2 separate regions of the Homo sapiens genome follow, and region 2 is reported to be linked to region 1. Evidence: microRNA targets listed by miRTarBase, many of them from high-throughput screens and not tested one by one. Region 1 holds a microRNA gene; the other region holds the end of a gene's coding sequence.

Region 1 (4,000 bases):
CGTGCCATCTTTACACGGGCTGCACCTGTGCCGTCTGAGCCAGGTGGTGCTGCGGTTTCCGTCGGTCTCGTTCTGCCTGCACCTGGACACCATTTGTCCAGAGTGCACATTGCAGGTGCTCAGGAATTGTCTGCAGAATGAGTAAGCGTGTTTTCTTTCACACACCTTTTTACTGGTTACTTTCCAACAGCACCAATGTGTGAGCACCATGCCCTGTGCTGGCATCACGGGTGTGAGCCAGGGTGTCAGGGAACGCTTAGTCCAGACAGCAGAGCCCCCCGATGGGAGGAAGACTCCAGGTGAAGGCGTGGGCCATACATAGCTCAGGGGGCCCGAGGGAGTCAGCCCACAGGGCACAGCCTCATTCCAAAGGTCACAAGGTGTCCAGGAATCTGCATTTGTAGTACACAAGGTTGAAAGTCTGAGATGTGGCCCCCCGTGGGCACTTCAGCAAGCTGTGTCTTCTCCAGTGACTGCAGGGTGCTTGCCCCAGATGTTGGGGGTCTATGGCCCTTGATTCTACGGGAAGCATGGACACTGGGTGCTTCAGGGATAGTGAGAGGGAGGCTCTAGTGTGGGACTGCTCTTGGGCCGGGGCCTTGTGACCCTGTGAGCCTCCGTGGGATGATGATGCAGAGCTGACAGTGACTCCGAAGGCGGGTGTGGCCGGCCCAGCGGCTCCATATCTTCCTGATTGGACATGGGGCATGGAGGGCCTGCCTGTGTGGCACCACCCAGCACATAGCCCCACTGCGACTCACGGGGCCGCACGCCACACAGGAGCTCAGACTACTGTGCCTGCCAAGCCCTGTCCGGGTGGCCGTGGGGCTCACTTTACTGGCGAATGAGCAGGGCTCTAAGTGTGGTACGCCCTCTGCCACCTGCTGTGTCCTGGTGGTGATGTGGGGCTGCCCAGGTGGAGCCTCCTTGCCTGGCCTCAGCAGGACCCAGCCCACCCTCCAGACACCCGCTGAGACCGGGAAGTGATGCTCCTCCCAAGCCACAGAGCTTAGGGACAGCTGGGGCTGCAGCTCAACACAGCCATCCCCAGCCATGAGGCTGCCTCCTTGGGGTTGTTGGCTGAGTGGCAAGCAGGAGGGTGCCACCATCTGGGAGCAGAGGACGATGCACAGCTTTGCTGTGCAGATGCATGAGGCTGCTCGATGGACCTCCCTCCTGGAGGGGCTCGGTTCCTGGCCAACCAAGACTGGAGTGGCCTGATCCCACTCAGGGATTCCCTGGCTGTTCTCTGACCCTGTCTGCAGGAAGCAGCTCTGTGTTCAAGAGAGGAATTCAAGCAGTGTCCTGATGGCAGAGTGAGTGAGGCGTACAGGTGCATCCCCACGTAAGGTGAGCAAGGTGAGCAGATGACATCCCCACGTAGGGTGAGCGAGGTGAGCAGGTGCATCCCCAAGTAGGGTGAGCGAGGTGAGCAGGTGACGTCCCCACGTAGGGTGAGCGAGGTGAGCAGGTGCATCCCCAAGTAGGGTGAGCGAGGTGAGCAGGTGACGTCCCCACGTAGGGTGAGCGAGGTGAGCAGGTGCATCCCCATGTAGGGTGAGCGAGGTGAGCAGGTGATGTCCCCACGTAGGGTGAGCGAGGCGTGCAGGTGGTGTCCCCTGAGGGGTTGGGGCCACGTGGTCTCTGATGCCACGTCTGCTACAGAACCTAGGTAACTGGGACACACAAACAGCGCGCGCCGGGGAGGTCAACCCCGCAGAGCCAACCGTGAGCCCAGGTGCAAGAGAGGAGCTGTGCGGTCGCAGTCGGAGGTGCTGTGTGTGGAGATCCACAGAAAGGCCTGCGTGGGCATGAGCAAGTAACCGCAGTGACTCCCTGGTCTCTTCTTGCTGGGATATGGGGCTTCAGTGCCGTCTTAGGGGCCCAGGGTTTTCTCAGAGCCAGTGCCCCTCAGACGCTGGTGGGGACGCCCCGCAGGAGGAAGGTGTGCTCCCCCATGGCTGTTTCCAGAAAGCAGGACTAACCAGGGCCTGCAGAAGCCATGGGAGACAGCCTCCACCCACGCTGCGGAGAGCGGCCCCTGCTCCAGAGACACTGCACTCCTCCAGGCCCGCCTGCCCTCCAGCAGCGGCCCTTGCTCCAGAGACACCACATGCTCCTCCAGGCCTGCCTGCCCTCCAGGTCATGTTCCAGTGTCCCACAGATGCAGCACCACGGCCCAGGCGGCATTGGTGTCACCCCAGGGTGCTACCTGCATGCTACCATCCAGTCCCAGTGACGACACTGGTGCCAACGGTCCCAGGGCCGTCCCTGTATCCTGGAAGCTGGCTCACAGGGGAGCTGGTTGGGTGTTGATGGGGGTTCCCCAGTCACAGGGTGTCGTGGTTTAGACATGGCCAAGACCAGACTGGCTTTGATCCCATTCAACACCGTGCAGCATCCTCGTAAGACGCCCGTGGACTGGAGTGGGTTGAAAATGGTAAATGGAGTGGTCTAGGAGAATCACTGTGCTGTGGGACTGCGGGGCCGATTTGCAAATCCAAAGGGAATTACTGAACACACTGTCATCTCGCAGGCAAGAGCCTCGGGTAGGTGATGGTGCCGAGGGTTCTGGTGAGGACGGTGGAGTAGAGATGACAGCGGCGGGAGGCGGTACGGCTGGTTGAGGGTTTGCAAAGAAATAGTTCAGTTTTAGAAAAGCTATATTTAATTTTAGATTTGAGTGGGAGAGCGAAGAAGAAACAGCTTTATAGATAGCAGTAAGCACGGGCTGTGGGGGAGAGGGGTTCCTGCGGGGAGGCGCAGATCCTCCTGCAGTCACACGGGGTGGGGGTGAAAAGCTCCAGAGTGTGACCTCACTGAAATCTAAGGTCAGGGAGACAATGGATGTTCACAGGGGTGAGAAAAAGACAAAGAAACCCACCATAAATTTGGCACAAGATGTATATACATTTATATAAATGAGAAAATTACACAAACAGAAATGGGAATACCCAGTAAACATAAAATGTTCCTCCCAATGAAACCGTCCCCGTGATGTGGCCTGCGCTCCTGGCAGCCCATCCCTCCTCCTGCAGGCCTCACCTGGGATCTGTAGCGCCTGGGGTGCGGGCCGTGCCTCGGGCTCCAAAGGTAAGAGTGGTTGTGTGTGCAGAGAGAGCCCACGGCAATGGTTCACGGTGCCACTTTTTCACATTTCCTGTCTGCTTTTAGTATCGTTAACTATGAGAATTCATTGTGGGCGTGATCGCTGATTCCATATTTGAAGGCAGCGTTTGGTTTGGACCAGAAGTCATGTTATATGAATAAAGGTGTTTTGGTGATTGGGGAGACAGAAAAGGAGGGCGTTTCCTGCTGCTGCCTTGCTCGGTTTGTGTCTGTGGGTGCTGGACGGGAGTGGGTGATTCCCGAAGCTCCCTCCAGCTCTCAGATGCCGAGGGCGGGCTGGTGGTGTTTGCTGATGGAAGTGCCGGCTCCGTCCGATGGGATGCCTGAGAGAACTGCTGTGCTTTCAAAAGTTGTTCTTTCTCTAAAAGGAAAAAGCAAAAGAAAATTAGACCTTGGACAGCAGGCGCCTGTGTGTGCTGCCGCTCGCCCTCTCACCGTGGGAGGAGTGCACGTTCTCTCGTGGATTTGCAAGCGCACTGTCGCATATCCTGTGGAGTTGGGATAATTTTTTCCACATAATTAAAGCAGCAATGTTGGGATGCACCTTCAGGAGGGAGCATTCCTGTGAGCTGCCTCCACCGCGCTAACCGTAGAGCTTGGGGTGGCTGGCACTGAGCATCTGCCCCGGCCGCCTGTGCGGGATGACGCGGCCTCGCGGCCTTCGAGTCTCCGGGCGCCATCCTTTGGGCAGCCTCCCCTCCACCCCTGCCTCGTTGCAGGTGCATTGGAGCCCCTTCACTGGCTGGGGCACTGCAGTGTGACATCTCCAACAAGTGGGCTCGGAGGGGCCGCAGCATCCCTGCGCCTGGTGGGCCTCACCGCAGCACCCCTGTCGGGCACCGCGATGGCGTGAGTGCACACGAGAGGGACC
Region 2 (4,511 bases), not on the chromosome of region 1:
TGGATCACTTGAGATCAGGAGTTTGAGACCAGCCTGGCCAATATGGAGAAACCCCATCTCTACTAAAAACACAAAAATTAGCCGGGCGTGGTGGCGCACGCCTGTAATCCCAGCTACTTGGGAGGCTGAGGCAGAAGAATTGCTTGAACCTGGGAGATGGAGGTTACAGTGAGCCAAGATCGTGTCCCTGCACTTCAGCCTGGGAGACAGAGCAAGACTCCATCCCCCCAAAATAAAAAAAAGAAAAGAAAAAAAGTATACTGGAATACAGGATTAACACGTGGAATGAAAGAAACTGAATCTCGTTTTTTTGTCCAGTTGAGGTGACTGGAGAGTCTTCCATTTGCAGATGAGCTGTGTGCCGGACCCATGAGTGTGGAGCCGGCAGTCACTGCCCCACGAGTCCCGCATGTCACAGCTTCTTAAACAGATGGTCAAGAGCTTACATGCGGTTCCTTATCCCAACCCGCCGCGGCCCGATGCGCCCTGGCTTTTTCTGGAACTGTTGTTCTGTGGATCCTCGCCGAGAACGCCCAGTTCTCCTTGCTGCTCAGTCATGGAGTCTCTCTGGGGACCCCGCTGCCGCGCTGGTCCTTCTGCAGAGGCCGCCTCCCTGCAGCGCTGTCTTGGTCAGGCTCCCAGCAGGAAAAGACGACACCCGAATGAAGATCATCTAAGGAGGCTTCAGTGAAGGGACCATTTACCACGGATGAGACAGCAGGGCGTGCGGGCGGCACGAGGGGCCGCTGTAGCATCTGGAGCTGCTAACAGTGGAGCTGTCACTCCCATGTCACACTCCCAGGCCAGAAGAGACCAGGGGAGGGGACTCAGCCCAGACACTGGGAGTGGCACCAGGGGGCTGCCTTGAGAGGCGAGTGCCAGAGAGAGTCAGGGACTCCCCAGGGGCCATCCCAGAGGGCACTGAGGAGGTTCACTGGGTCTGGGACCCGGAGGAGGCGGGGAAGGAGAGTGGGTCTGAAGGGTAAGGGGTCGATGTGGGTGCAATTGCCCTTTCTGATTCCGCTCTCCCGGTTTTCTGTCCCTCTCTGGCCGCCCCTGTCCTGTCTCTAGTTGAGGTCTTTCTTGGCCAGTGCCTGCCTCCCTGGCGCCTGTGGTTTCAGTGATGGGGATTCTTCCATGCGTCACTTGGAGCGACCTCGTCTGTTCCTGTGGACTCACTGACACACTAAAGACACCAGCTCAGCCCTGACCTCTCACCTGAGCGCCTCCTTACCAAGTCATCCAGATGGCTCCCCAGGGATGAGCAGCAACAAAACGGGCACGTGGGTGCCCAGCACACGTCAGGTGATGTTCTAAGCCCCTTGCGCGTACCCAGTCACTTACCGTTCACTGCAGCCCCGGGATGAGCTCTGCGATGAGCATCCTTTTGCAGACGAGGACACTGAAGCACAGGAAAGTTAGGTCATTTGCCTAAGGACATGCAGCTGGATGGGGACAGAGCCAGGATCGGGCTTGCAGTGGCTTCAGACCCCACCTTTCTGACCACAGCGCTCGTGCTCTTGGAGCGCCTTGAGATAGTGGGACAAGGCGGACTGGAGGACGCAGTTTCCAGATGGGATGCCCTGGCGGGCGACTCCCGTGCGCATGCCCAGCATCCTGCGCAGGCGCTCTCGTGGCCAGGCCTCTGCAAACAGTCAGCACAGACCGGGAGACAGAAAACTACACTCCCTCAGACGCTTTATTGTTTACAAAACAGATGGATCCCATAGGGAAGGAACACAATCATTATGCTGACAGCAGCGAACAGAGAGGGGAAGAAAAAAGGTGAGCTTTAAAGTAATCGCAAATCACTGCCTATGCGAAGAGGCTGCTTCCGGGCACCTGGGCTGTGACTCAGGTGCTGACATGAATACATCAGCAAGGTCTCAATTCAGCCACAGTCCCAAGTCCCCCAACCTTCCTGATTGCATCTCTATTTTAAATGACCCAGCCTGGACATCAAGGACAATGATCTAGGAGGCGGGTCAAGGAGACAGCCAGGCAAAGTCAGAACAGACTTGGGGCTTCCAGGCTATGCCCGGTGACAGCTGAGCTCTTCAGAAATGCGTCACATTCAGCGTTCACTTCCTTCGCTTCCTCCACTACCTATGACATAGCGGGGGAAAGAGACAACCATGAGAGAGGGGTCCCTCCTCGCTGCCCTCCTCGCAGCTGTGCTTGAGTTTCAAAGGGGGAGAGGTTTGTGAGGGACCGGCACAGGGACAGCCAGAGCCGGCACCCTCCGGCCCACCGTGGCACCCCTGACGATCGCGGGGTGGGGTAGGAGTGAGGGTGGGGGTCGGGGTGAGGTAGTGCTGTGGGGAGGGCACTGTGAATGATGGAAACGTCCCTTCTCAGCCTGGGTCGTGCCTAACCTGGGTCTCAAATCCCACTCTGCCTTCACCCTGGAGTACACTCCAGCGAAGCCGAGGCCCAGCCAACGCTCGTGAAGTTTCCACAGAGAAGAGCCTGCAAAACTCCCACTGGAAGAGGAGAAATAAAGGCCATGGAAAGAAACCCCAGGGAAGAGACAGGCCTCGTTCACAGACCCTAGGCAGGGAATAAAAAATTCAAGTCATTCACAGAAGTCTTGAAAGGCATGAGGATTTCTGACAGTTCCTAGAAAAAGGCAACATTTTCTTTATCTTTGTATCCATTGGCCAAGAACGCCGACATGTGAGACTTGCTTCACCAGCCGCCACCGCTTCCTTACAATCTCCCGCACTGCTGGAGCGGGCTGGGTAACTACAGGACTGTGCTCTGTGTGATAAGATTTGGTGATTCCACTTTATAAGAAAGGAAACTGCTTTAATTAAAGCAGGTTAATAATTAAAACTTCAAAGTACTGCACAGCCACAGAATTTTCTTGAAGGGAGAAAGCGGTCACTGGCCATATGATGCGGAGATGGTTTTATCTGAGGCCTGAGAACCAACAGATGTGCCTGCGCCCTGGCCTGTGCAGCTGTGGGCAGATGTGTCCCCAGGGGCCTGCCCTCACTCGTGACCATGCAATACCCTGCAACATAAACATTTTCTTTTCCAAGGATCTGCAGGGGTGGACATGATGCTCCAGGCACAGAGTAGGAAGAAAAGGGGGTGACCTGGGGTTCCCAGCAAACAGGTCCACCTCATGCTCACTGCGTTCTCAGGGTGAGGCATAGGGCCTGACATATGGTAGGAGCTCTAGGGATATTCACTGAACAAAAGAACATAGGAAAGAAAAGAAACGAGGTCGGATGGAAGAAACGACCCAGCCAGTTAGGCAGGCCTTGAGTCAATGCCTGAAGTGACCGAAATCACCACCAGATGGCAGCATGGAAAGCAGTTCAGACCGCGGCCTCCGTGGGGCCCGGGGGTCCAGTGCCCGCACCACTATGGGGCCCGGGACTGGGCTCCCTGTCCAGACCTCCAACCCAGGCACAGTTCCAAAAAGAACAAAACAAAACAAAAGTGCACTCCTCTTGTTTTTATAAAAGCTGAGTCCTGATGGCCTTGCTCAGTGTTTCCGTTTTGAGTTAAATGAACTCGATGCCTTCGTATTTCACGCTTCCGATCTTGGTCTCCGGCAACAGGAAGCGCCCGTCCAGCGTGAAGGCCATGATGTAGGAGGCGACTCTGCCGCTGTCCTCCTCGGATTTGAGGGCCACAATGATCTGGTCGTCGGTGTTGGGGATGAACTTGAAGGACGAGAAGCCGTGAGTGGGGACCACCGCCCCGACGTGGCTCACAGCGATGTCGCCGAAGTCAGGGGAGGCGCTCAGCAGCAGGTTGGCGCCCTTGCGCTCGTCGTCCTTCTCGCTGTAGCGCTCCTGGCTGGCGCGGCGCGGCAGGAAGAACCAGCGCTGCAGCGTGTCACTCCAGCAGGCAGACTCATGGATGAGGTAGCCTGGGAACCGGGTGACCGCGGGTCAGACACGCATGCGGCCTGGTGTGCCCAGCCCCACACCATCAGGCCGTGCGCAGTAGCAGGCAAGGGGCTGCGACCACCAGGGCCCACCAGCTCACAGCAACCCGCCCCTCCCTGCTCTCCAGGATTCTGGAAGGTTCTGTGTTCTCGGTTATCCCATGCAGGGAACCTGCAGCACCCGCTCCCTTGAAGCCTCCTCCCGTTCCACCGAGAGCTGCCTGTGAGCTGCATCAGGGATTTGGGCTCATCGGAGCCTCCTCGGGGCTGATCCAGAGGAACCCAAGGAAAGGGAACAAACCCCCATTGGATGTGGGGAGGCATCGGCGGGGAGGCTGCCTTGAGGCTGCAAGGAAGAGGAGACAGCGTCTGGGGCCCCAGGCACAGACTCAGTCACTTCCTCCTGAACCTCAGGCACCTAAGGCCTACTCCATCCTGACTAGGGGGAGGCCAAAGTGCTGCTGGCCCTATGTTGGTGTGGAACACCACGGCCCAGCGCCAGGGGTAGGGACAGGGCCTGACCCACCAGTGCAGACAACCGGGCCACAGGCTGGGATGCTAGGAGGCCAGCTGCCAGGGCGAGTGGGGCAGGAAAGAGAAAACAGCT

Evidence for each region. The annotated mature microRNA hsa-miR-6075 reads ACGGCCCAGGCGGCAUUGGUG and lies in region 1 at 2,175-2,195, shown strand. An mRNA with a match to its seed (bases 2 to 7 or 8) in the 3' UTR can be bound and repressed. Matches are read on the target gene's strand: a 7mer-m8 pairs with bases 2 to 8, a 7mer-A1 pairs with bases 2 to 7 and ends in A, and an 8mer does both.
Region 2: miRTarBase lists CANT1 as a target of hsa-miR-6075. Seed matches in the 3' UTR shown: 7mer-m8 at 2,244-2,250.

Annotation. Positions count from the first base shown.
Region 1 is chr5:1,508,962-1,512,961 of GRCh38, reverse strand. MIR6075 (microRNA 6075) reads left to right here and starts at 2,106; the gene lies at 2,106-2,200. The region is part of intron 1 of LPCAT1 (lysophosphatidylcholine acyltransferase 1); the gene reads left to right. RefSeq lists enhancers at 417-976, 3,293-3,810, 3,811-4,000 and a silencer at 894-1,188.
Region 2 is chr17:78,990,035-78,994,545 of GRCh38, forward strand. CANT1 (calcium activated nucleotidase 1) reads right to left here. Exons shown (of 5, transcript NM_001159773.2): 5 at 1,682-3,886. The coding sequence ends at 3,516. Among named protein-coding and RNA genes, the nearest start is that of LGALS3BP, 12 kb to the left of the region's middle.